Linked DNA regions of Homo sapiens: regions 1, 2 and 4 are each reported to be linked to region 3. The links are microRNA targets in miRTarBase. Many come from high-throughput screens and were not tested one by one. Region 3 holds a microRNA gene; each other region holds the end of a gene's coding sequence.
Evidence for each region. The annotated mature microRNA hsa-miR-26b-5p reads UUCAAGUAAUUCAGGAUAGGU and lies in region 3 at 2,060-2,080, opposite strand. An mRNA with a match to its seed (bases 2 to 7 or 8) in the 3' UTR can be bound and repressed. Matches are read on the target gene's strand: a 7mer-m8 pairs with bases 2 to 8, a 7mer-A1 pairs with bases 2 to 7 and ends in A, and an 8mer does both.

Region 1: miRTarBase lists WASHC4 as a target of hsa-miR-26b-5p. The part of its 3' UTR that is shown has no 7-base or 8-base seed match.
Region 2: miRTarBase lists USP6 as a target of hsa-miR-26b-5p. Seed matches in the 3' UTR shown: 7mer-A1 at 773-779 and 8mer at 1,919-1,926.
Region 4: miRTarBase lists CBLL1 as a target of hsa-miR-26b-5p. Seed matches in the 3' UTR shown: 7mer-A1 at 2,595-2,601 and 7mer-A1 at 3,701-3,707.

What each region holds. Positions count from the first base shown.
Region 1 is chr12:105,166,172-105,173,276 of GRCh38, reverse strand. It overlaps WASHC4 (WASH complex subunit 4), which reads right to left. Exons shown (of 33, transcript NM_015275.3): 33 at 4,147-6,413. The coding sequence ends at 6,346. Among named protein-coding and RNA genes, the nearest start is that of WASHC4, 62 kb to the right of the region's middle.
Region 2 is chr17:5,172,349-5,179,457 of GRCh38, forward strand. USP6 (ubiquitin specific peptidase 6) reads left to right here. Exons shown (of 38, transcript NM_001304284.2): 38 at 457-2,643. The coding sequence ends at 630. It also overlaps a transcript of ZNF594 not described here. Among named protein-coding and RNA genes, the nearest start is that of ZNF594, 16 kb to the right of the region's middle.
Region 3 is chr2:218,397,614-218,404,736 of GRCh38, reverse strand. MIR26B (microRNA 26b) reads right to left here and starts at 2,091; the gene lies at 2,015-2,091. It overlaps CTDSP1 (CTD small phosphatase 1), which reads right to left and starts at 4,869. Exons shown (of 7, transcript NM_021198.3): 1 at 4,580-4,869; 2 at 3,025-3,173; 3 at 2,522-2,626; 4 at 2,332-2,388; 5 at 1,610-1,702; 6 at 1,320-1,505; 7 at 1-440. The coding sequence starts at 4,646. The coding sequence ends at 312. RefSeq lists silencers at 4,422-4,581, 4,742-4,821, 4,892-5,261, 5,952-6,221.
Region 4 is chr7:107,757,729-107,764,851 of GRCh38, forward strand. CBLL1 (Cbl proto-oncogene like 1) reads left to right here. Exons shown (of 6, transcript NM_024814.4): 6 at 415-3,939. The coding sequence ends at 1,450. Among named protein-coding and RNA genes, the nearest start is that of CBLL1-AS1, 17 kb to the left of the region's middle.

The sequences.
Region 1 (7,105 bases), not on the chromosome of region 3:
TAGAACATCCCTGGAAGAAAACTAAAGTCAGCTCTATAGCTTTAACATTCAATTTCCCAAAAACTAGGGCATAATGAAATCACAGAAGAGGGGATATAGTATCAAAAAATACTTCCAGTCAACATGAGTAGAATATGTGATCCCATTGCTAAAAGTTTTAAAGGTGTTGCTTTTAAAATGGTGGATAAAACAACTTTTGTAATCCAAAATTAGGTTAATATAGGATCCATTTGAAATGTATACACCATAAAAGAAATAGTGAGCCAGTCTAAGCCAGTATGAGATTATGCACTGTAAAATTAATTCATTGTTCACTAATGCCTTACAAATTTGTATGACATAACTGCTTTAGATCAATTGGTTCTCTGACAGACTGCAAGAACCACAGTCCCCTGAACTTTTTTTTTCTTGCTTAGACTTTTTTGGGAGAGGGGTAGAATCTGAAGTCCTAAACAATTATTAGTTTGAAAAGTGAAACACTATACATTTCTTTATACATTTCAAATGGATCCTATGATGTTAACCTAATTTTGTATTACAAAAGTTATTTTATTAATCCACCATTTTAAAAGACTGCATGGCTTAAATAAGACACAAAGCATGCACATCATTAGGGAAACATAAAAAGACTGAAATTCAGTCCATTAAAACTAACTTCATCAAAAACCACCACAGAGAATGAAAACACACAACTAAACCAAAGATACTAGCAAGCACACAAGACCAACAAAAAATTAGCATCCAGAATATATAAAATACTCCTACAGGTAGAAAGATAAATTGAAAAAAAAAGTCATGAAGGCATTTCATACATTAAAAAAGACAAAGTGTTCATAAACAGAAACAGACTCCTTATAGTAATCAGGAAAATGCAAATTAAAACCACAGAAACATTATATTCACCAGACTGCAAAAATTCAGCTGTTTGTAGAAATGGAGCAAAGGGGAATCTCCTCAGCTGCTGGGATGAAACAACAGTTTGGCATTCTGTCCAGTACATTGAAAGGGCACCTGCCGTACTACCTAGCAGTTTTACCTGCAGGTACACAGCCTAGAGAAACTCTAAACACATGGACCCAGGGACACGTTCAATAATGATTACAGCATCATTGTTTACAATATCCCAAAAGTGAAAAACACCCAGATGTCGTCGACAGAAGATAGCTGTATTCATGTAATGAAATGCTAAACTACAGCTATATGCATCAACGTGGATGAATTTTTAAAATAATGAAAAAGTTACAAAAACATATAATAAGATCCCATTTCTATTTAGTTTGAAAACTGAAACATAACCATATTATCAATATTTAGGAAAATACCATCAGTTGTAAAACAAGGGAACAGCAAGAGAATGATTAACACCAAACCCCCATGTGGTTTTCTTGGGCAGAAACTGCAGGAGCTTCTAAAGTGTTCTTAACTGATAACGGTAGCTTCTTTCCAAGTGCTTTATTTTCATTCTTTAAATAGTATAATACATATTGTATACCTTGCATGCACTATTTTTAAATAATTTTAAAACTTAGAACTGTGGGTGATTTGCCCCTTTTCTCCACTTACTGAACTGTGTATTAATACACATTAAAGTGCTCTGAAAGATAACAAGTGCCATGTAAATGAAAGGTGGGAAGGGTGGGAAGAGAGGAAATGGGACCTTTTTAGAAGCCAACTATTCTTACCAATTCCCACTTCCCAGGCTGGTTTAGCCTCACATACCCATCAGACTACCTTTAGGGAAGAACAGGGCCTTCCTTACCTTGTCTGCATCTACCTGAGCCACTTAACAAGGAATAGTTTTTTAGAGACCCACTTAAAGTCAAATACAGACTTTAGTTTCAATCGTTCCACCTAAAAGAATAGTTAACACTTAATGCTTATGTGCCAAGTTTATTCCTACCTATGAGAGTACACATAATACAGTAATAGCTAATGTTTCCAGTAGTTATATACAAGAGCAGCTAATATTTAGTTACTGTTTCCTAATATATAAAGTGCTTTACGCAAATTAAATCCTCAAACAACCTATGAGCTACATACTGTCATTATCATCCCACCTTTTGCACAAGGAAATGAAGCACAGAGATATTAAGGAATCTGTTCCTAAGCAGGAAATCGGGATTCAAATTGTTCTGGCTCCAGAGTCTATGCTTCTAACCACTCTGTGCTATATACAGATGACCTCAAGAGAGAACCAGATACTAAGCAATCTCCAAATATTTCTCAATACATTAAGCTTTGACGATTTATTCAATAGCAGTATCAACCTAAAGCATAATATCCTTAATACTTTGCTACCTTTTGTACAGATTCTGAAAAGAGTAAATACTTTAATACTAATCTGATAAAGACAAGTGCTTCTAGGTATAAAAGTTAACTCCTTCCCCCATCAAATGAGGGCATTATTAAAGAATGCTTGACTCTTACCTACAGAATGTATTTATAGTCCTTAGAGATGATCCAAGAATTATGGTATCAGATCTGCATCGACTGAATAAATTTGATGTACATTCCTGAGTATATCTCCACTAATGGGAAATGGAGGTATCAGGTGAACTGAGTGGTAAAGAGGAGCCAAACTACTGAAAAGAAAATACTTACTTGCCCAACTTTTCTTATACATTATATATATGCTGACCTGTGTTATAAACTGAACTCTAACTTTGCCATCACCATCTCTTGAGTTCACTGCCTTTGCTTAGTCTCTACAGATTTCCACTTATTCTGGATTCCCTTTTTAAACTTCACATCTTTGACAGCCTATTAAAGTATTCCTAACATCTGAAAGCCTTTGTTAAAAAAAAAATGTGGTATTAAAACTTCCCTTAAAAAACGAATACCGTCTTCTGAAACATCTGCAATGTGAAGCTGGAAAGAAAATCCTGTTACAATTATTAAAATCAATTAAAGCCTACCTTTTACATTTAGCAGACTCAGCATAAAATAATAACATGAAGTATCCAATATTTTCTCATCTTTCCCACAATTTTACAAATTTACTGCCTCAGAAGAAAAAAGGAACAGCAACCAGACTTAACTTTACCAAGAATGATTTCTGCAGTGTAGTATTTAACAGGATTGTACCTCGTCTCCAGTGTAATATTTTGAAGGCTCTGTTGTCATTACTGTAGTCCCTGCTTATCTGAGAGGGATACACCAAAACGCCCAGTGCATGCCTGAAACTGCAGATAGTATCTAACCGTATATATACGGTTTTTTCCTATATATACATGCCTATGATAAAGTTTATAAGTTAGGCACAGTAAGAGATTAACAATAACTAATGATGAAACATAACTGTAACAAATACTGTCACCAATGCTGCGGAGAGAAGATTCATTCTTACCACAGATCTTAGCAACCCCACATATGATTTCTTTTCTTTCCTTATTGAGAACTTTCATGTTTTCACTTAAAGGATGCATTTTAAGGCTTCTCTTATAGCATATCTGAATTGCCAGCGTCACTACTCTTGCACTTTGGGGCCATTATTAAGTAAAATAAGGCTTACTTGAAGACAAACACTATTGATTTGACAACCTAGCTACCAAGTGATTCATGGGCAGGTAGCACATACAGCATGAAGATGCTGGGCAAAGGGGTGACTTACGTCCCAGGCGGGATGCAGCATGACAGCACAAGATTTCATCATGCTACCCAGAATAACACACAAGTTGAAACTTATTGTTTCTGGAATTTTCCATGTAATATTTTCAGACCACAGCTGACCACAGGTAACTGAAACTGGAAAGTAAAACACGGATAAGGGGAGACTACTGTATTGTTTTAGTTCAACTCAGGTTTGCAAATAGCACTATAGTTATTACTAACATTAAACAATGCATACTGATAATCCCTTTCCAGGATTAGGATTTAAAGTAACTTCATATTGGTTCTTTTTATTGGAAAAAAGCTCTGGAAAGATCAAGGATGTATAAAGGAAAGAAAACACCTTTCTTTCACCTGGAATACATTGACAGGAGCCAATTTTAAACTTCAAATTTTTACCTATGTGCATGCATTTTATAAAAAAATGATTCCACAGATTTCATTTCATTCAATTAAGGGGGACCCCAAAAAGGTTAATATTAAGAACTACTGGTTTACGACATTCAATTTTGAACATAAACATCCAGGGGAAGGAAATTTTCAAAATTATGTTTATTAATGTTTTAGTATACACATTATATTCTCTTAGAATTGGGGGAAAAGGAAAACCCCACTCAAGTGAGGTAACAAACTTGCCATCTTTTACAAAATTTCATTAGAACTGACAATGTTATGGTGAGTCCTTAATTCCTGAGAATTTGAATTATTAAGTTTTCTGTGAACTTAAAACAAACGCTCACATTAATTTTTAAATTACAGTATGTCTGAAAAAATAAAATTAATGTTAATGTTATCAAGAAAAATCATCATCCAAATGTACATATTAACCTATTAGATGTGAATATACTGAAGCCCTGTTGCTCTGCAGTTTGACACCATTTAAATTCGTTTCCAGGATCTTATTTCAAATATATGAACTTATAATTTATCCAGATAGCAGTGACATTATTTTGACCTAAAGGAAAAATAATTGTCTGTCATTTTCTTCTCAACTGTAGGTATCCAGGGAGTCAGCATGTGAACTCTATCTAGTATTGATAAAATAATTAATTTACATGTGTAGGGATAATGAACACAGAACATGTGATTCTCTTCTAGTAACAATTTCTATCCCTTAATAGGAGATGATTTCAGAGAAGTTAGAGAAGAAAAACAGAGAAAACAATACTGTTGCTATGAAATGACGAATTTGATATAATCAAATGCAAGATCATTAATATAAACACTTATAATAATGAAAATATAAATTATTAATTATGCAGCATGCTTTAGGGCCATTTCTACAGTTATTATGAATTACAAATATTAAATGCCTTTAATCTATCCACTGTTCATAATTCTGTAAGCCATGTTTACATAATAAACAAAAAACATTTCCTACATATTCTGTCTCTTCTGACTTTTAACAATTAAAGTATTTATCTTGGGCTGGCAAGTTACCCTGACCCTAACCAGTAAGTACAAACAGGGCATTGTACACCCATTCTAAAAGCTGGAATCAAAGAATAATGTTAGAAGTATTTGCAGGATTTATCCAAAGAAATGTTTAGCAGACAAATGCAATAGAAAAAAATCAAGCATTTCCCAAAATGGTGTTTGTATTAGAAAGTTTTAAACTTTTGTCTTCATTGTAAAGGTATCACTTTATTTTATTTTTAAAAGGCCATGATTAACCATTTAATAACTTACATACCTTTACAAAAATAAAACTAACAGCTTGCTGGGCACAAAATTTACTCAAAATCTTTCTGTATTTTTAAAATCAGTAAGTGATGTATCTTGCTAGCGCTTTATTCTCACAGTGGTATTTTTTTAAAAGCCTGAACAGTGTAATTATTTAATCTGATGTTTTAAATTATACTTGATATAAAAAAAAAGTCTACCCAAACCATCACCAAAATTTCAATTCAATCTAATGTAGAAGAAACCTGAGTTTGGATGTAGAAATAATTCATTCAATTTTTTTTCTGACATCATACATCATGCCTTCAACCAAAATAGAAGTGAAGCTTCAAACAGGACTCTATGGCTTTATCTGAATTTTCTGAGTATTAAGTAAATCTTAAATTTAAAGCAGCTGTTGGAGGTTAAATGTTCTCAAAGCAATGTAAACTAGTTATAAAATGTCTCATCAAAGACATCAGCAGCTCTTGTGAGTCACATGAAATTAACAATGAAAGAAGGATCATCAGTTATACTGTACACTGAGAGTACATAAAACACTTGTGCCTCACCTCTAGTATCAAAGCCATCTTCATATATTCCTTTTATAAGAATATTGATATGTATTCTTTATGAACTTCAGGCTCATTCCTTTTGTTAAGCATGTATTTACTGGCTGTATATAGTATATGCATTGAATTTCCCATGACTTGAAATAACTATAGATCAAAGATCTATGCAAATACAAATTACAAACATGTAGATTACAAGAAATCCGAGGTGATAGTTTATGAATCTGGATTTGCCCTTTTATAACTTCACTTCAAATAGAAACATCTTGTACCCTCAAGTCCAGGCAAAAATCCAATTTTAAAATCTCATTCTTAACCTTTGAAAGTAGAGCCTTTGGAAACAGAATGAACTTCACTTTAAAGCACTGCCTTTAAGAACTGTAACATCTATTTTCCAGAGATGTGACCCAGGAAACAATTCATCAATAGTTTATCCATTCCACTGGCAAAAGTTTTAACAATTCTGATGATTTCATCATATGTGCAGTGAATACCATCCGTATCATTTCACAACAGGATCAGCAGACACAGTGCTGTCAGACAGGTCTCCATTGCTTGTTTTAGTTTCTTCTGAAAGCATGAGTGAAAATAATAATGGATATTTATGTTCATTTTTAAACAATAAATTAAGAAGTAAAAGAAATTTGAGAAGAGCTGTATTGCCAAACTTCAAATTACAGTTGCATCCATCAAATGTTTCTCTAACATCACAAATTATACCTTGTTTACACTTTAAAATTTTTAAAAATCTAGGCTAAACACTGCAATTGTTTCCACTGGTTTTTAATGAAGGTGGAGTTGAGGGAGCTCAGAACCTGTATTGGGGTGGGGCTTCAAACCACATGGGCTCCTTTGTCCTGAGGAATCTTGATATTCCTGGTCTAAGAAAGGCCCGCTCCCCTCACGCCAGTTCCTCCAGCTGGGCCAAGAAAGAACCATTACAGTACATTGTCATTCCTGGTAGGAACATGGCTGCAAACTCACATATCAAAACTGTCCAGAATGAATAACTTTCCATTTGTATTTATAACTTATTATAATAAATTATACGTAATATATATTATTTCTTAAAATAATTTTAAATGAAACAGCTTTTCACTGTTTTTGACAGAATGAATTCCTGGCTTTTTGTGCAAAATGTCATGTGTGCATATTTCATTAACAGACAAAGACTATTTGAGTAATGTATTCAGAAACTGACTATATCTCTGAGCAATCTTTAGCTGAAATAGTCTTAGAACAGTGATGTGAGTGATAACATA
Region 2 (7,109 bases), not on the chromosome of region 3:
GTGAAACCCCATCTCTACTAAAACTACAAAAAATTAGCCAGATGTGGTGGCACATGCCTGTAGTCCCAGCTGCTCGGGAGGCTGAGGCAGGAGAATCGCTTGAACCCGGGAGGCAGAGGTTGCAGTGAGCTGAGATTGCACCAGTGCACACCAGCCTGGTGACAGAGCGAGACTCCATCTCAAAAAAATAAATACATACAAAATAAATAATTAGAATTTGATGGGGTTTTAGGTCATTCTGTTTTGACTTGTCTATGGTCAAAATATTTTCCCCAAAGCAAACATTGGAAATAATGGGGCTCATTTTAAAGGGGCAGGTGTGAGACAGCCAAACTAGTGAGCTTATTGGAAGCAATCAGGTTAGTAATTACAGAGGGTTGGTCTTCCCTTTCCTGGCAAGGATTTAGAGTCATAATAGTGATGGCTTTTTGTTAAAGGTTTTTCTTGCCCTTTCAGGAACTTCACCCTGATGAAATTGACACCGACTCTGCCTACATTCTTTTCTATGAGCAGCAGGGGATAGACTACGCACAATTTCTGCCAAAGATTGATGGCAAAAAGATGGCAGACACAAGCAGTACGGATGAAGACTCTGAGTCTGATTACGAAAAGTACTCTATGTTACAGTAAAGCTACCACTCTGGCTGCTAGACAGCTTGGTGGCGAGGGAGATGACTCCTTGTAGCTGATACTTGGCAAAAGTGTCACTGAAAGACAAGCTAAATGTAGTTATTTTATCCTGTTAGAACAAAAATTCTAATTAAAATAGTTAACTTGAAGAGTAGAAACAATTGTATTTTGAAGTCTCATACAAGCTGTCTGATAGAGAACTTTCAGGCAGATCCCACCATTAGCCTGTAAACAAAAGGTGTGGCACCAGCCACCTGGGACCAAATAAGAATTGAATTGTGCTTGTCCAGATATGAACAAATATGTAGTGAGTATAGAGTTTACCAATAATCATAACAAATATTAAAGATTTCCTTGGAGTCAGAGGAAAAAACAAACAATTATAATGTTGTCTAGGGACGACATGATACGCTACCTCCTTTTTCCTGAAGTTTTATTCCATTATATTGACAAGATGGAGAAAGCAAGATCATGAAGGTGTGCAAATGATTCTTACGGCATGGACAAGGATTTTTCAATTTATTTTTTAAACTGTTTCCATACCCTTTCTTTTTCTTGCTTTTTGTTTTTGCCATTGTGTTTACGTTTGAGACACAACCAGTCATTGGTGGCAGGGGCATAGAGTGGTCAGTCTGAAAGGGAGGCTCTCTTAAGAGCTATGTGCCTTCCAACCAGAGGGAGACCCAGTAGAAAGAAAAACATCCTGGGAAATCCAGCTACCAGGGCCCTCCCAGTGGAGGCATCTTACATTTAGGCTACTTCAAGTATCCTCAGAAATGTATTCTGCACCCCCGGCCCCGCCCATGCTGAGGGAAGGGGAGCAGTTGCCAATATTTGCACCATCTTCACATGCACATGTTGCAACAAGAGCTTCTGGGAAGGTAAGCGGCATCGGAGCTAGATCACGTTTCACAATTAGTGGTTATTCTTTTCTGTGTTTGTTTTGCACTTTAAAAAAGAGAGAACACATGCAAATGAACTTGCTTGTGTGTATTTGATGGCTCTAAGGGCTATAAATTACAAACAAAACACATCCCAGACATTAGGAGTTCATAAGTATATTTAATGAAATTGGTGGTTTTAGGAAGTCAACTTTAGTTTTGCTTTGTTTGCATGTCCACTGGTTTTTTTATTTTGATATTTGTCTTTTTTTAAATTTTACAGTAGTCATTGAAAGTTATGTTTCTTTGCTTACTTCATTTTTTCCCTCTAATTATTTAAGATTGGAACAAAAGTATAAATATTATTTATTTGAGGTAGAATTTTTTTCATGTAGTTTCTTAATATATACTTGAAGGAAATGTTTCACCTTATTTTTGGTCTTTGTTTATTCATTTAGACCCTGCAAGTTGATTCTCATTGCCAGATTCCATTACCCTTTCTTCCTCATAGGTAGTAATTACCAATGTAACTAAGCATTTGTGTTCTGATATCTGAGGCCAGTAACTATTAATATCTAGTTCTCAGAGCATTTGGAAAGGTTATCTTAAATGGCTACCTAAATTGAAATCCTTTTCAGAAAAAATATAATTGCAAGTAGGTAGGAGTGGCCTAAATTGTCTAATGTAATAAAGTCAGACAAAATGCACACTTTATAGTTTCAAGATTTTCAGTAAATAAAATCTGTCCATTCCTACCTGGACATGTCCCATTAAAAAGTGGAAGATTTTAAATAATTTCTTTACAGATGTTTTATTTAAACAGGTAGCACAATCTACTAATGTTGTGTGATTTGTGTTATACTGGTTGTAATTAATTTTTTTAATTCATGAACTAGCGGAAAATTTATTAAATTAACTATTAACTACATTCACCTTGTAAATTACTGTATAAAACTTGTTGACAATGCACTGACTTTAGAAAGATGTTAATGTACATAAATAGAGTGTAAATAAAATAGTGTTGATGTACTGAAATATGAACTGTATCAAAAGTATTGGTAATTGTATATGGGGTGTACCTGTTTATCTGTTAACTATTATCCAAACAAATTAAATACTGTGGTTGCCTCTATGTGCTGTTTTTCCTCATACAAGTAAACACAGAAAGTCAAATTCTTCAGCCTCCCTCTCTGTGATCCTGTTTTAATTCTCCTACTTGAATAATTTCTTTCTGACTTGTATACAGAGGGGATGCTTCATCTCTGAGGTTGGAAACTCTGTAGAGCAGGATTCCCCAACTCCTGGGCTACAGACCAGTACTGTCCATGGCCTGTTAGGAACCGGGCTGCACAGCAGGAGGTGAGTGGCGAGCTGTATTTATAGCCGCTCCCCCTTGCTCCCATTACCGCCTGAGCTCTGCCTCCTGTTAGATCAGCAGCGGCACGCCATTCTCACAGGAGAAAGAACCCTATTGTGAACTGCGCATGCTAGCAATCTAGGTTGTGTGCTCCTTATGAGAATCTAATGCCTGATGATTTGAGGTGGAACAGTTTTATCCTGAAACCATTCCCCCCATCCCCCCAGTCCGTGGAAAAATTGTCTTCCACAACACCCATCCCTGGTGCCAAAAAGGTTGGCAACCACTGATGTAGAGGGTAGAACAAGATCTCTCCAGTGACCAGGTGACTTTAAACATGGCTCACATCCCTTTTAGAAAGTTATGGCAGGGAAGCAAGTAGAGAGCAGGTGGTAAACTGAGGATTGGTGCCTACATTGGTACCTACAGTGGGTCCTACAGTCATTTTTGTGCAGATCAGGAGATGAGGTGAAGAGAAGGAAAGCTTCTCATTTGCATAATGCCTTGAAATGACCCTAGGTTTCTAGCGGGCACCGAGAAACCAGAGATGCCCCTTGTTGTCTGTCTGGGAGATCCAAGGAGACATCTGGCAGTGTTGAGAAGAGATGAAGGTGACAGCTGTAGGTCCTTCACCCTCAGCTTCTATTTGTTCACCTATAAAGTTAAAATACGGAACACTCAGGCTTGTAAGAATTAAATGAAGGACACAAACCCTGGCACAGTTGCTTGGTAAGTGCTCAATCCAACGATATTCAATCCTATTTCACAAAGAGGGATTTTTTGTTTGTTTTGTTGTTTGTTTCTTTACCTCCTTGCTACACCGACGCTAAAAGAGTTTAATAGTACTCTGTTCACATTTTCCAAAAACAAGAATACACATTAAAAATGTATAAAATGGGCCAGGCCCAGTGGCTTACACCTGTAATCCCAGCACTTTGGAAGGCCAAGGCAGGCGGATCACCTAAGGTTGAGAGTTCCAGGCCAGCCTGACCAATATGGAGAAACCCCGTCTCTACTAAAAATACAAAATTAGCCAGGCATGGTGGTGCATGCCTGTAATCCCAGCTACTTGGGAGGCTGAAGCAGGAGAATTGCTTGAACCCGGGAGGCAGAGGTTGCAGTGAGCCGAGATCACGCCATTGCACTCCAGCCTGGGCAACAAGAGCAAAACTCTGTCTCAAAAAAAAAAAAAAAAAAAAAGAATAAAATGAAACATGTTGAATCAGCAGCAGTGGCAGCTTGTTTAAGGAACAAACAAACAGAAAATTAATACGGAAAGTCAAAAAATGAAGCACAACTCTTTTAAGTGCCAGTCTGTTTTTAGGTTTCTTCTTTTTTTTTTTTTAAATAGAGACAGGGTCTCTGTTGCACAAGGATGGAGACACACAAGCCTGGCATGGCTGTAGGTGATACAGGGTGGAGACACTGGGAGGTCAATGCGGCTGCAGACACAGGGTTTGGAAACACCTGATGGAAAATGTGGGCTGTCAGATAAATCCCTGCTTAGAGAGAAATTTACAGCCTTAAAGGAGTATGTTAGAATAGAAAAAAAGATTGACAGTCAATCACATAAACTCCCTTCTCAAGAATTAAAAACGATCAAAATGAAAGAATGAGAAAGTAATAAAGAGCAGACATCAATGAAATAGGAAAAAAAAAGCAACAGAAACAAATCAAGGATAAAAGTTGGTTTATAGGGTTGGGCGCAGAGGCTCACACCTGTAATCCCAGCACTTTGAGAGGCCGAGGCAGGCGGATCACGAGGTCAGGAGATCAAGACCATCCTGGCTAACACAGTGAAACCCCGTCTCTACTAAAAAATACAAAAAATTAGCCAGGCGGGGTGGCGGGTGCCTGTAGTCCCAGCTACTCGGCAGGCTGAGGCAGGAGAATGGCCTGAACCAGGGAGGCGGCGCTTGCAGTGAGCCGAGATCGCACCACTGCACTCCAGCATGGGCAACACAGTGAGTCTCTGTCTCATAAAAAAAAAAAAAAAAGTTGGTTTATAAATATTAATACACTTAAGAAACCACTAGTGAAACCAACTGAGGCAAAGAGGAAAGACACAGAAAACCAATATCCGGAACCAAAACAAAAGCCTGTTCCATAGAGCAGTGTATTAAGACACTAGGAGGGTTCGGTGAAATACTTAGGACTACAAGTTTGACAACAGAGATTCAAATAACATCACATTGAAAAATAAACTTACTAGGCCGGACATGGTGGCTCACGCCTGTAATCCCAGCACTTTGGGAGTTCGAGGCAGGTGGATCGCCTGAGGCCAGGAGTTCGAGACCAGCCTGGCCAACATGCTGAAAACCCGTCTCTACTAAAAAATACAGCCGGGCACTGTGGCTCACACCTGTAATACTAGCACTTTGGGAGGCTGAGGCAGGTGGATCACGAGGTCAGGAGTTCGAGACCAGCCTGGCCAACATAGTGAAACCCCGTGTCTACTAGAAACACAAAAATTAGCCGGGGTGGTGGCACGCACCTGTAACTCCAGCTACTCAGGAGGCTGAGGCTGGAGAATTGCTTGAATCCAGGAGGCGGAAGTTGCAGTGAGCCGAGATTGCGCCACTGCACTCTAGCCTGGGAGACAGAGTGAGACTCTGTCCCCCAAAAAATAAAAATAAAAATAAACTTACTAAAACGGACACAGAAATAACATAAAACAAGAAAACTCCTACATATACCGAAGGATTTGAATTATTAGAAGTCAAACCAGCCAACAAAAATACTGTTCCACAAGGAAAATTCCATACCTAAAGAAATATTCCAAATATTTAAGGAAGAAAACACCTAAATTTCTCAGACTCTTCCAAAGAGAAGAAATATAGGAAATATTTTTCAGTTTTTTTTTTTTGTGAAGCCAGCATTACTTTGACACCACAATCTGAACAGGACCTTAGAAAAAAAAATTATAGGCCCACTCTTTCATTAACAGAAATACAAATATTCTAAAAAAAACCATATCATATGAATTAAACCACATATGGAAATGTAACACATGGATACCAAGTGGGATATACTAAAAAATGCAGGATTGGTTAACATCCAAAAATAGTTCACATAAAATATCCTATTTTCAGAAAAATACGAGAAAAACATATGATTATTTACAGTATATGTAAAAAAAAGCATTTATTCAAATTCAACAATTAGTCATAAATAACTCTTAGCATATGTAAAAGAAGGCAGCTTCCTTAATCTCATTGTTTGTCTAAAATGAAATTATAATAAACTACATAAGGAATACAGGATCACTGAAACCTGTTCCCTGGAATCAGAACCAGACACACCGTGTTCAGGAGGTGTGATGGGGACAATAAAAGAAGAAAATAAAGAAAAATAAAGGTGTAAGAACCAACATTTAAGCAATATAGGTGTTATTATATGTGGCTGACACTAACTACATAAGTATGTAAGTACGTTAAGTATTTAAGTACATAAGTACATAACTACATGTACATAAGTACATGAAAAACCCACCACAATCCAAAAATGATGCCTATGAATATGTGAATTAAACCAGGTAACAAGATACAAAATCAATATATAAAATCAATTAGATTCTTATTTACCAGCAAGAAAGAAATGTGAAATAAAATTACGGTACAATGACCAGACTAAGAAACAACTATCTGCACTAGAAATGACCCCATAAAGGATTAATTTATAGAATACCTTTTTAAATTCTTCAAATCAACATAAGAACACAAATGACCCAACAGAAAAGCCAGCACTGAAAATGAAGACAAAGACGCAAAGGCCAATAAATATTCACAAAACGTCGCTTCACTAACTTATTTCCAGTTCCAGATGACAGGAGGCCCTCAAGGACCCAGAAGGCAGGACCACAGGGAGGTGACAGCGCCAGCAGCAGCAGGGCAGGCCTCTGCCTTGGCCACAGCTCCTGGCGGGCTGCAGGGGCCGGGAAGCCCGAGCAGCCTGGCGCTCCTGGCCCCTGCACACACTTCCCTCCCTCCACCCCGTTCCTCTCTCTCTCTGTGCCTTGGGCCCCCTGGGATGCGCTCACATCCAGACTCACCAGGCCGGAGACGTTGGCAGAATGGAGAAGTGCTGGCTACAGGTGGATGATGCCCACCTGGCTGCCAATGACTTCTGCACCAAGCGAGGCTGGGTCTCTGGAGCTGCACCAGGGGCTGGACAAGCTGACCCTGGCCGGAGCCAACCTGGAGATGCAGCCTGAGAACCTCAAGGAGGACCTGGTCTACCTG
Region 3 (7,123 bases):
ATTTGGCAGCAGAGAAACATGGCAGCATGGACAGAGACAGAAAAAGGGAGCAGCAGGCAGGGCCCCCCAGGTCCCCTGAGAATAGGGGAGGAGGTTTGAAGGCACTGACACGGGGCCTGGAGCTCACGGTCCTCAGTGCAGCCTGCTGCCCCTACACCGCCTGGTGGGGCTGGTGGGGGAGACGCCCGCTTCCCCATGGCACTGAGTGTGGCGGCGGCCCATGGGTTTTCCTAACAAAGGCCTGGGCAGTCTTCCTGGGAGGAGGTGTGGGTATCATTGGTCAGGGGCAGGTCCTGGCCCCATCACCCTCACTAGCTCCCTGGCCGTGGCTGCCTGAGCACTGAGTACACGTCGTCCACACGGCTGAGTTGCTCGAAGAAGGGGAGGAGGTCGTGGAGCTCTGTGTCACTCATGTTGTCAAACCACGAGGCCACCGGTACCTGGGGAAGTGGGTGTAGGAAGATGAGGGGGGCAGGTGGTCCTGGGTGCAGAATTTCCAGGCCAGCCCTATGTAGCCACTACTCAGATCATGCAGTTTCTGAAAACCCCTCACCCACAGTGTTCAAACTTTTTTGACAGCAATCCCCAGGAAAACACATTTATAACGTAACAATGCAAAAGCTTCACAATTCCTAACCTTATCTGTGCGAAGCACTCGGATACTTTTTTTTTTTTTTGAGGCAGGGTCTTGCTCTGTTGCCCAGGCTAGAGTGCAGTGGCACAATCTTGGCTCACCACAGCCTCTGCCTCCAGGGCTCAAGTGATACTCCTACCTCAGCCTTCTGCATAGCCGGGACTCCAGGCATGCGCCACCACGCCTGGCTAGTTTTTGTATTTTTTGTAGACATAAGGTTTCACTATGTTGCCGAGGCTGGTCTTGAACTACTGGGCTCAGCTACCTGCCCACCTCAGCTTCCCAAAGTGCTGGGATTACAGGCATGAGCCACTGCACCCGACCGGATATTTTCTATTCTATTTCATTTTGTTAAAATTCCCAATCAGAACCCACTAAATTAATTCTGTGGGCCATCAGTAGGTCACAACTGGCAATTCGAAAAATTGAAACTTTCCAAACTCCGTTGCCCTGTGGGGGCCCCTGTGCATGGCAGATGCTCTGCTTTGTGCGAGGGGAAAAGACCATATGGCTACAGGGCAGGTGGATGAGGGGAGTGGGCGGCAGGCACAGGCAATGAATGCAGGAAGGACTGGGAGGGCACCCACCCCCCAACTGGGGATCCAAGAGGCCAAGGTGGCCTGAATGGACTGACCCCTTCCTGGGTCTCAGCTCCTGTCCCAGTCCCAGTCCAGCCCGCACTCACAGCATTGTCTGGATGGAAGACATAGGAGGCAGGTGAATTGTCCAGGATGAGCACCCGCCGCAGGTCTCGACCCAACCGGCTCAGGTCCTTCACGTAGTTCCCCCGGTGGAAGACGCAGGACTCTCGAAACAGCCGGGCCCGGAAGGCCCCCCATTTGTCCAGCAGGTCAGCTACTGGGTCTGCGTACTGGGAGCAGGAGGTGGGTCATCCTGGGGCCCGCAGGTTCATTGGGCTGCATGCGGGAGGTAGGTAGGAGGGCAGGGTTGCCCCGGGACCCCTGTGGGGCTCACCTTGGCGAGGCTAGCAGTGAACAGCACACATTCAAAGAGCTCGCCCATTCGCTGCAGGAACTCATCCACGTGAGGACGCTTCAACACGTAGACCTGGGGGGCGGGCCAGTGAGGGGGCTGCGGGCCAGTGGGGCAGTGTGGGGGTGGCCGAGGGCTGGCAGGGCATGGGCCAGGGAGGCAGAGGCGCACAGGAAGGAGACTGGGCCCGCAGGCTCCGCTTGGCCAGCTACCCTGACCACTGCTGGGGAAACTGTACCCACCCCCCGCCAGAAAACGATCAAAACTTCCACTCCACTGGCCAGTCCTACCTCACGAGGTCCCTAATTCCCAATCCCTTCCCCTGCCTCAACCTCAGCCTAGTGCAGGAATCCAGGGGCAGCCCCCTCACCCCAAGGCTGCAGGGCACCGGTCCCCGAGCCAAGTAATGGAGAACAGGCTGGACAGCACACAACCTATCCTGAATTACTTGAACTGGGTCCCGGGCAGGGTGGGGCGAGGGAGCACAGCACGGGGGAGCCTAGAGGAGGAGCCCACTCTGCAGGCTTGGAGTCAGCACAAGCCCTTGAGGTTCTGTGTGACTTTGGGACAAGTCTCACACCCTCTCTGGGCCTCTGACATTCCACATGTATCCAATTCCCATCCGAGGCGCTCCGGATTGGTGGGAAGAGCCTAGGGTCTGGAGGCAGATGCCAAGCCCACCACTGCCTCTTCCTGGCCCTCACCTGGTGGACCACCCCATCAATCTCCACAGGGATGATGAAGTCCGCGTTGTTCACTGGCTGTGGGGGGAAAAGAGCTGCTGGAGTTGGAGGAGGAGCCCCAGGGCATGGGGTCCAGCACACACCTCCCTCCCAGGCCAGGGTGGGGGATGCCCCCCGAGACCCGGGCTGAGGGCTGTTGAGCAGGGCCCACCTTGAAGGAGCTGTGCACCAGGGTCTCGTCCAGGTCGATGACCACGCAGATCTTGTCTGAGTCCTGGGCCTTGGCCTCAGGGAGCAGGTATTGGACTGGGGTCTGCTGTAGGGAGGGCGGGGCTGGCTGGGGTGCCTCTCTCCGGGCCTGGTCCTTCCTCCCACGCAGGCTTCTCCCCCTAGCCGTCTCCAGAGGAACCCCAGGCCCCAGGAACAGATACTTCCCCCTTCCCAGCTTTGCCCCTGCCAGCTCTAGGGCTTGGGTAGGCCTCTTGGCTCTTTGAGACCTCTCTAAAAACCAAGGTAGGAAAAAGCTTCCACTTATGAGGGAGAATTCAGTTTCCCCACAGTGGGCAGGGCCTGGCAGGGGAGGCTGCCACCCTCCTACTCTGCACCTTTCAGGTCTGCAAGTCCATCCTGAAAAGCTCAGTCAGGAGCCCCTTCCCCTAAAGCCCTGAAGACTGAGTCCAGGTGCCCCCGTGGCCCCACCTGGCCCCCACGCACCTTAGGGATGGCGCCATTCTCCTCCACAAGCAGGGGCGCCCCGCTGTGAGCAGGCAGGGCCTCCCCATCATCCCGGCAGACACAGCAGAAGAGTGAGTGGAGGATGCCCCGGCTTCGGGGCTTCTGGGAAGCTGCTGACTTCTGGTCACCTGAAGTAGGGAGGCACAAGTTGGAGGCTCGGTGCACACTGGCCTGCAGAATCCTGCATGTGTGCCCAGGTGTGAACCCCTGAGCCAGGAGGATCTTGCCGTGGCCCCTTCATCCAGACACACGAAGGCAGCTCCTGACTTTCTCTGAAACGCCCCTGTCAGGGCTCCACAATCAACTGCAAGGCTCCTGCAGCTCCCAGACAAATAGGTCTAGCAGGTATTAAGGCGCCCACATAGGGAGTGCGTGGCCTGGAGAAGGAGGTCCTGGGGTGCTCTCTCCCTGCCTCTCACAGCCTCCATGACTGCTGCTGATCAGCCCCATTGCGGTGCCTCCTGACCCCACCTTACCTGAGCACCCCTGCTCAGGACAGCCAGGGCCTGGGACCCAGGGCAGTCCACCCCTGCCCTCCCTCCATCCTCTCCACCCCCGTGGGTACGAAGTCCTCACTGCGGCTGGGCCCAGAGGCAGGGGTGCAGTCCCGCGGCCTGGGGCCAGTGTCCAGTGGCCATCTGTTTGCCCTGCCCCGCCCAGACCTCCGACCTGGAGCCCAGCAGCCTGATTGACAGATACCCCTCCCACCCCACCCCCCTCCGGCCCCCTGCAACTAGCCTTTCCACCTTGCCCTCAGTTCCGGGGCAGCCAGACCCAGGCGAGGGTGGGCAGACCTGGGGGCAGCGTCCAGATCCTGAGGTCCACACGGGGAAAAGGAGAAGACAGACCCCCCCACCCCGGCCCAGCCACGCTGGGGGACGCAGCCTCGTCGGGGCGGCGAGGCTTTGCGGGGTGGTGCGTGCCCACTAGGCGCACGACTCTCCCCGCGGGCGCCAAGCGACTCTTGGAAGTGCCGGCCGTCCTCTCTGTGCCTCCGAGGGGGTCGGCGCCTCCACGCGTGACGCGAAGTTTGTGGGGAACGTAGCTGTGTGTTGGCGGGAGATCCCTCCAAGCCTCCCCAGCCTGCTGTCACCTCGGCGCCCCCTCCCAAGACCCTACCGGACCGCAGCCCGGGGGGGTGGGGGTGGGGGGTGGGGCGGAGTCTCAGCGGGTGGCCCATAGGCGCCCTCCTCAGCTCCCCCATCTCCCAGCCCCATTGGCGCCAATGGTGGGGGGGCGCCCATGCACCACGCAATGCCTGCCAGGAAACCCCCGAAGAGTTCCCTCTCTATTCCTGCCTCAGTTTCCTCACCTCGAGCGAACAGGAGCGCCCCAAAGGCGCCAGGCCCCGCCCCGCGTCTCTGAGCCTCCTCTGAGTTCAAACTCTCTCCCTGCTCCCTCTCGGGCTGGGAGCTTCGGGCACAGCTAAGGCGGCCGCCCGGGGCGGCGGCGGCGGCTCCCCTGGGGAAGATCCCGGCCCCTTCTCTCCTCCCACGGCGCCCCGGCTTCGGCCCCCTCCCCGCAGCCCCGGTACCTTTGCCCCGCAGCGGGCCCCGAGCCTCCTCCTTGCTGATCTGAGTAATGACGGCCGAGCTGTCCATGGGGCCGGGCGCGCTCCGCTCCGGCCGGACTCTGGCCCGGGCGCCCGGCCTCCCCCCCGGCTGGGGCCGGAATCGGGGCGCGGGGGGGAGGGGAGGGGTGGGAGGGAGGGATCCCCGCGAGCTCCGGAGGGGAGGGGAGCCAGGTTCTAGGGGGGAGGGGGAGGGAGGGGGCGCGGAGGAAACTTTGTTACAACATGGAGTTTCCTTCCCGCGAGGCGGATGCAAACATGGAACCCAGGCGCCGTTTCAAGGCTCCCCCTTAAAAGGGCAACGGCTTCGGCGTGACCTGGACTCGGCTGCGGCTTTCGCCACTTCTGGGACCGGCGCGGCTAGGCGGACTGGGAGGCGGGCCGGGCCGGGTTCCTGCCGCGCTCCAGGGGGCGTCGCCTCCCTTCCTGCCGCCCGCCGGCGGGGCTGAGTCTCTGCGGCTGCGTGGCAGGCCCGGCACCCGGCTCACCGTTCCAGGCCGCCGAGCGCCCTCGGCCAAGGCCCGCCCGCCGGGAGCGCCCACGCCGGGGAGTGCCCGAGTGCGGCGCGGCTCCACCTCTGCGTTTTCTGAAGACCCGGGACTAGAGGCTTCTCGGTTTCCTCGTTGAGGACTTGGAGATAGCACTACCTCATCTGTAAAATGGGTCTTCTCTCCTGTCTGGTGGTCGCAGAGATCACCTCGCAAGGACGTCAAGAGCCAGCGAAGGCTCTGCTGGCCCGAAACAGCTGTGCAAACCTCAGAATCACGCTCTTGAATGGGACGGTCGCCGCCCCCCGCAGCCCCAGGGCGAGGTGCCCCCGGTCTGTAGGACGTGAAATTCTAACTCTCTGCCCTGGGAAAGCCCCCTGCCGACCTCTCCCCACGGCCCCACCCGGGGCCCCGCACGTCTACCCGCCGCGCACGGGCCACCGCGCGTTCCCGCCTGAAGTTTTCGTACGCGCTGTTCCTTTCGCGTAGCCAAATTCCACCGACCTCGAGGAAATGCCACCTTCTCCAGGGGCCTTCCCAGACCCCCTCCCCTGCCCGCGGTCGACGGCCGCCCTGTGATTACTGGGGGTGCGGTGGGAGTCACTGGACTCGCTGCCGATCCTAGGAGCCCAGCACGGCGCCGCACGCGGTGGGCCCAAAGCCCGACCGTGGGGGACCTCAAACCAGAGGCCCTCAAGGCCCGTTCCACCCGGCCTGTGGCGCAGTGCTGGGCACTTGGGAACGGAGGTCCCTGTCTTCTCGCTGCAAGCCCCTCCGTGGTGCGCGCCGTGGGTCTGCGGGTTGGTCTTTTTCCTCGTTTATGAAGTTCTTTTCACTCGTCGTTACTATTTTGTAAGTTCACCATTTAAAAATTAATAATGCCAAGCCCGACAAACACCCCTCGGCACTTCCTCCCCTCCCCCTCTCCCGCGGGCCTCCGTGGCGGGGCGGGGCGGGCGCGTCCTGTCCCGTCCGGCCGCCGGGTGCGACGCGGCGCACGTCCGCCAGGCCCTGCCGAGGGGGAGCCGGGGAGGGGAGGCCCCGCGCGGGGGCCGGGAGGGGAAGGGAGGGGAGCGGCGTCTGCCAGAAGGCGCGGCGGCTTCGTGCGCTGAGGCTGGGAGTAGGGGCGGGAGGGGACTGTCGGGGACTGATACCCCGGTCCCCGGGCTGGATCCCTCGGCCCTCCTCCTGCTCCTGGGTAGCCCACGGGGCGGCCACCATTGCGCTTCATCACCGTGATCGCCACACGCTGCTGGCGTTTTCCTAGGCCTGCTCTGGCTGCGCCCCCTAATCTCATTTACCCCTTAGAACGGCCTCCTTCTTAACCCATTTCACAGATGAGGAAACTGAGTTTCAAGAAAGGAAGCGACGTGCTTCGGGTCTACCGGCAAGGGCAAAGGCGGGATTCCAGCCTGGGAGCGGGACATCTGTCTCCCCTGCGGTCCGGCCCCCTGGGTGGGGCCTCGGCTTTATCTCCGGATGCGGGGCCCTCATGACCCCAAAAGGAAGCGTGTGGCGAGGGACTGAGTGGAGTCGTGGCCTCGCCCTTGGCCTGGGTTGGGTGGCGCGCTTTCCTCTCCCTCTGTGAAGGGGGCTGGTACCTGGCCGGCTGTCCCCACACCCACCATTCCCAGACGCGCCATCCTGAGCTCACAGGATTCCTCAGGAATCCCCCACCTCCTCCACCCCATCTTATCGCCACTTCAAGCCGTTGCCCGTGCAGTTCTTTTCCCAGGGAGACCTAACTCCTCCTCCCAGGCTCCCAAAGCGGCAGAGGTAGCCGCGCCTTCTGCCTGGAGCCCTGGACTTATCTCCCCACGCCTGGGGCGGGTAGTTAGTTACGGAGTGAGCGAGAGGCCAGGATTGCGTGGGGGGAGGGGGGTCCTTCGAGTGTCCTCACTGTAGGGGTTGTCTACACCCAGCTGCCCTCTGTCTCTACAGGTGGAGGTCGCTTTATGCACTCTATTTTTTGTCTGTTTTATCATTCGCACCCCAGGAAAAATAAAATCATGGGGGCCAC
Region 4 (7,123 bases), not on the chromosome of region 3:
TGCTCAACAAACAGTTATCACTCAATAATACCATACTAGTTTGAATTCCATGATTGTAAGTAATCTACCCGTTGGTTTTTTTCTTGCTGGGTTTTTTGGCAAATGGATGCAGAAGGTACAATTGTTTGAGAAAACTGGATAAATTCTAGGCCTTGGGAAGAATGAGGTCTCTTCTTGAAACATACCGTTTGATATTAGGAGTTCTGAAGTTGACAGAAATGCCTATCTTAATGGCTAACAGACAACAAAGTAGGGAAGATTAAAGGTTTGCGTAGAATAACTGTAACTTCTAATTGTGGACTTTTGCTATGTTTTATGTAACAGTCAAATTTTAAAAACAAGCATATTTTTGAAAATTACATAATTTTTTGTATTCTCTTTTAGTAAATCACATTTCTTTCCCTTCTAATTTAGCTGTAGTGATCCTGTGCAGCGAATTGAGCAGTGTACACGAGGTTCTCTCTTCATGTGTAGCATTGTTCAAGGGTGCAAGAGAACATATTTGTCTCAGAGAGACTTACAGGCTCATATCAACCATCGCCATATGAGAGCTGGAAAACCTGTTACCCGTGCTTCACTTGAAAATGTTCATCCTCCTATTGCCCCACCACCAACTGAAATCCCTGAGCGTTTTATAATGCCACCAGACAAGCACCATATGAGCCATATTCCGCCAAAGCAGCACATCATGATGCCACCACCTCCTTTGCAACATGTGCCACATGAGCACTATAATCAGCCACATGAGGATATTCGTGCTCCTCCAGCAGAATTGTCCATGGCTCCACCTCCACCTCGATCGGTCAGTCAGGAAACCTTTCGTATTTCAACAAGAAAACACAGCAATTTAATAACCGTCCCTATTCAGGATGACTCAAATTCAGGTGCTAGAGAACCACCACCTCCTGCCCCAGCACCTGCTCACCATCATCCTGAATATCAGGGTCAACCAGTGGTATCGCACCCTCATCATATTATGCCTCCACAGCAACATTATGCACCACCCCCACCTCCTCCACCACCAATAAGCCATCCAATGCCACATCCTCCCCAGGCTGCAGGTACTCCTCACTTGGTATATAGCCAAGCTCCACCTCCACCAATGACCTCTGCTCCACCACCAATAACCCCTCCCCCTGGACATATTATTGCCCAGATGCCACCTTATATGAATCATCCTCCTCCAGGACCTCCCCCACCTCAACATGGTGGTCCACCTGTAACTGCACCCCCTCCTCACCATTATAATCCTAACTCATTACCCCAGTTCACTGAAGATCAAGGAACTCTGAGCCCTCCATTTACACAACCAGGGGGAATGAGTCCTGGTATATGGCCTGCACCAAGAGGGCCACCACCACCTCCACGATTGCAGGGTCCGCCTTCTCAAACCCCACTTCCTGGACCACATCATCCAGATCAGACAAGATATAGACCGTATTACCAATGATAATAGTATTTTGAATGGAAGATATGAGGGGGAAAAAAACTTATGTGTAGTCAATCTTTTAAGCTTTGACTGTTTTGGGAAGGAAGAGTACCTCTTATCGAGGTAGTATAAAACACATAGGGTCTTGTTTCTTAAAATGGTTTTAAATCTTGACCTTAAGATTGATTTCAAGTACCATACTGTAGTACAGATAAGTGGCTCAGTTGAGCACAGCTATATTTTAACATCTCTTTGTTCCCCTAGTTTAGTAAATTGACCCAGAGGTGACCATTTGTAAAAAATTTGAAAAAATTTTTCATTGTTTTACTTCAAAAGTATTGTTTTGTTAAACCCAACGTTTAGTTTTTCTTGTGATACATTTTGTTAACCTGTGTAAAAGGATTAAATTTCAATATGGTTGTAAAAATGCTATTTTTATGTGAATTTAAGTGCAGCCACATACTGTTTTTTAAACCATATGTTTTACCACTAATTTCCCAAAGTTATAATAAAATCCTGAAAGTAAAAATCTACTAGAATTTGCTGTAAGGCAGACTGTTAAATGATAGAGAATTATTTCACATTTTAGGCACTGAAATGTTGAGGTTTCGAGGTATAGTAAGTATACAATGCACTTCACTTGGATGCCTTTTCATTTTTAGGCAGCCTCAGGAGCACCAAAATACATTGGAATTCTAGTACTAAGATATATTTGTTCGTAATGTTAAAAGACATTACTAATTATTTGGAAAGAGATGGCCAAAATAATCAACTCTACAGGCTTCAAGCTGGTGGGGGAATGCTGTTACTCATTAATGCTTTTTTACTGAATGGTCGGAATCACATATGCACCACACATACTGATCTTAAGTAACATTATTTTATAGAACTGTTTAAATGGGTTTAAATGGTGTTCTTTAGATGAAATGTGTTCTGTTTTGTTCATTGTCTTAAACTGAATAGGGCTGAATAGGCTTTATGTAATTCTTCATTTCATGGTAGAGTTTGATGCTGTGTTTAAGTGGGTTCTTGTTTATAGGATTTTCAACTACAGTTTGAATGCCATGGAGGAATTTGAATAATATATTAATGAAGGACATATTCTTGTAATCACAAATTTGCATTTGCTCAGGTTTCATTGCTGTGTGATAGGATTTTTCCTCTAACTTGAAATTTAAAAACTTTTATTTCCTATTCCTTTTGTCGGTAAAGCAGTCTGAATTTGGAACATTTTATCATGGAGTCAACAGTGAAGACTACCAGATAATTTTGTATTGGAGAAGAGGAAATAACAGCTAAATTGTGGATTTCAGTGCTTTACATGGTGCCTTTCGAGTCAGCTTTTACATTATAGGGGCTTGTTATAGTTTAGCTAAGATGACCACTTAACAGTTTATACAGAACTCATATGTATAAATCAACATTCTTAGGATATTATTTATATCCTTTGAATAAATCCCTGTGAAGTTTTTCCTCCCCACTAAAATGGTGCATAATAAAACATGAAATATGTAGTATGCAGATATCATTTATTAGATAGTTTGTAGTGTATACATTTAGAACATACTTCTTTTGACAAAGGGTGATCTGATTGCTAATTTACCATTTTATTCTGTCAGGTACAGGTGAAACAAATTCTCATCTTGAATGATCAGATGCAAAATCATTTCTGAACCCTAGAGCAGAAGTTAGAAATAACAAAATGGCCGTTTCAACCTTGACTGGCCAAAAATAACTAATAAACTTTTTTGTTTTAAGTCAGGCAAGTGATTTTCTACATTTAGCAGTTTGAAAGTCCAGTGTTAATGCAATATTTCTAGTGAGAAATGCTTGTTATTAAAAGCATGGGAGTGATAGTGTGAAATGGTGGTGAGTGCTTCTATCATATTACTGTAGGTACTTGGACTGGTGCAAACTTGATTCCTTTTCATCCCCCTGTTTAGGAGCTATTAAAATATTACTGTTAAAAATCCAAACCATTCTTTGTTCCATGTAATAAGAAAATAGCCAAAATCACTTTAGAGCTTCTCAACTATTTATGAAGAGCTATCCTGCTTTTATTGAAAGTCACTAGAGTTGAATGTGGTAAGAAACCACTTAGCCTATGTATTGGACGAGAAAATCAGTATCATGATAAAATTTTGAATTAAGAGAACCCTTGTAGAGTTTTTAAAAAATGATTTATTTTCAATTAGGTTTAAGAAATCTATGTTATGCAGGGAGGCATATCAGATGAATGTTGTAGCAGACAAAAGTTTTAAATCGTGTTAGACTTGAATTCATCAATTGTTTGAATGAGGGTGGGTGGGTAGAAGGATAACAAAATTACTGTTAGTGTTTCTTTCCTTACGGAAAAAGATGTGAATCCCAGCCTTATTTCAGGGAAGCCTTTGAAGCTATGATGGACATAAGTCTAAATTAAATGTATGTATGTTTCATTATATTGCTCTTAAGACTACTGAGGTGGCAGTTTAATTCTTAAAAACAATAAAATGGAAGCATAAATACTATTTTGCCTAGATGAATTTTTATGTTTTGGCACATCTGGGAGAATGCAGAATTTTCCATGTTTATATTGATACAACTTTCTACAGTAAAAGTAAGTTCACTTCTAAAAGATTAAAACCATCAAGTTGAATGTCATATTTCTTCATTGGCATGTTTATTCAGAGTATAATACAGTATTTGGGGAAATATCTGTTGCAAAGACTGTAAGAAACTATATTCATTTTGCCTTGTAAAAACTACTTGCTCAAAATTATCATGTAAATACTAATTAGATACCACTGAAATGTAAATGGAAGAGATACTTGAACATATCTTTTAAAGTCAATAAGAGGCTGTATGAAGTATACCGAACTGCCGAAGGCTTTGTTCTGACTAATATATTGGAAGAGTATCTTTTGTAATCTTTTTGGGAAAACTCTACAGTTCCGTCTTTCATTTTTTGAAAATGCCCCATATTATGAGTACATGAAAAAAGTGCATGAGTACTCAAAGATATTTCTTCATTAGATTAGCCGTCAAATTAGTATGTTGATGTTAAGCATATATAAACATACTATATTCTGACTGAAGTGGACTTACTCTTCATACTAATATAAACATACTATATTCTGATTGAAGTGGACTTACTACTCTTCACTGGTTTGTAATTTGCTAAATTATGGCCTAGAAACCAATCAGTTTGCTTAATACAGTATATGTGTAATCAAAGCAGTATCAGATACACTAGGCTTAACGAGAAGTGGAGATAAGCCAGGTAAAATACTTGGCAGTGATGCTAATAAAACCTAATTTGGATTTTTAAACACCTTGTTTTGATTCATGTCCCTTCAGTTTTCCATCATTGAGGGAAAAAGTTTTAAGGCAGAATTCTTAACACTTTAGTGCTTAATTTTCCCACATCCCCATCTTTAAAAATTTTGTATTTTTTGGCACTGTAGAAGCACAGGATTGAAACGAACAATAATAAGTCATGGGTTTAGTTCTCCAAATTGGGTAGGACTTCTTTAAAAAAAATTTATTCACTTAAAAATGTTAAAACTTTTTTTTTTTGGTAAAAGGATTATTCTGACTGTGTGATAAGACAAAGGAGGCTAAGATGGAAGCAGAGGGACCAGTTAGTAGGGTGTTTTAATAATTTACACAAGAGATGATGGTGGTAACATTACAGGTATCAAGAAGTGGGAAGTGGGTGACTTGTGGAAGGATATACATAAAGATACATATATATGAATTATTGATTTATAAAGTTAAATACCTATTATATATGTTAGATGTGGGTGTATGATAATGAACAAAATAGATGGTCTCTGCCCTTTAGGAGCTTACATTCTGACTTACTTAGGAATTGTTCTTGATAGTCGTCTTTAAATTTTCTTCAAAAATTTTCCTTATATTCAAAGTATTGTGGCCAGGACATAAATCTTAATGTTTAAAAATACATTACCAAAATACATACAAAACCATGAGAGAAAATGTATTTAATTCTGAACATTACTATTTCCTAGCAGCTTTTCTGGATATAATTGTACAATGCTAAATTAGTGAGTTTGGAACAAATCTGTGGAATGCACTTATAATTATTCCTGAGTTTAGTCCTATCTTGTAATCAGTTTTTATTTAGGTTTTAATTTCTTTTGAGAAGTGATGTTTTCTAATATTTAAAAGCCTGGGTTGTATAGAGTTAGACTGTCCAGACAGATTTCTGGCTTTACCACCTGTGACTATCTAATTTAGACTAGTTACTTGCTCTTTGAGTCTTCATTTACTTTGTTTTTTTAAAAAATAGGGGAAATCTTAGTACTGACATTATTGGGGACTCTTTTGACAGTTAAATGACTATATTTTAAAAAGAGAGTCAGTAGGATTTCCTGGTGGATTTTTTGGCTTGATCAGCTTAAGAAAAATGGAGTTGTCATTAACTGAGGTAGAAAAAATGCTGGTAGAGCAGATTAGGGGAAGATCAGCAGATCAGCCTTGACATGTTGAAATCCAGAGGAAGATGCTAGAAACATGAATTAAATATCCCTCTTTTATATTCTTGTTCATGCAGTGTAGGGTCAGCCATTTAAAAAATTTCATTTACATTTCTAAGTGGTAAGTTCCTGTGTTTAGACAAAAATATGTATCAAGTGCTTAAATAACTTACAAAATAATTTTAAAGATACACTGCTCAACATGTATTACTTTCACACTTTATGAATTTCTGTAATGTATTTGTCTCTTCACAAGTTGTTCTGTCTCCCAGTTGCCTCCTCTCCCCTCCAATCTTGTTCTGGTTTATATACGTTTATTTTTATCTTCCAACATGGTCTCTTGACTTCTTCCTAAATTAGGGATCAGATTTTGGTACTAGGAAATTTCCAATATGTGCTCTGAGGCAGGCAAGTAGAGGCTCAGCCCCATGTATTCCCATTACTAGAAGCATACCCAACCTTAGTGGCCTACAAGAAAGAAAACATTTAAGGATAAGGATAAGTAAACCTCTAAGGTGTTAAGGTTGAATGTACTGTGATGTGGGCACAAGAATTGGAGTGCTTGTGCTTGTTTCTTGAGTTTTTTGTTTTTGTTTGGTTTGGTTTGGTTTGGTTGGCAAGAAGAGTGCAGAGGGCACCTTTGCTTGGGAAGATGGAGACCTCAGCGACAATCCTATATATAAGGCATTTGCCTCAACTTCAAGCCAAATGATTGAGTAAATAGGCTCCTGTTTTCAATTTCGACTTCCTACTCTTTTTAGAGGAGAAGTTCTTAACCCAAGATTTGTGAGGCATTTTATATGTAAATTGTGTGTGTGTGTGTGTGTGTGTGTGTGTGTGTGTGTGTGTGTGTGTGTATTTTTTCCCCCAAAGTCCATAGGGTGTATGAGACTCTATAAGGAGTCCATGACTCAGAAAGTTAAACACTACTATAAAGAGTGCTGTGGCCGGGCACAATGGCTCACACCTGTAATCCCAGCACTTTGGGAGTCCGAGGCAGGAGGATTGCTTGAGGTCAGGAGTTTGAGACAGCATGGGCAACATAGATCGTGTCTCTACAAAAAAATGGGAAGATTAAAGAGTGCTGATATTCTACTTTTAAGATTGGCTGTGTAAATAACCTTTATCTTACCTTTGTGTATGTAGTTTTAAGTCCAATAGACAAACCCTCTCAAAGACACTACCAGAGAGTGGAAAGGTACTTTGACAACAA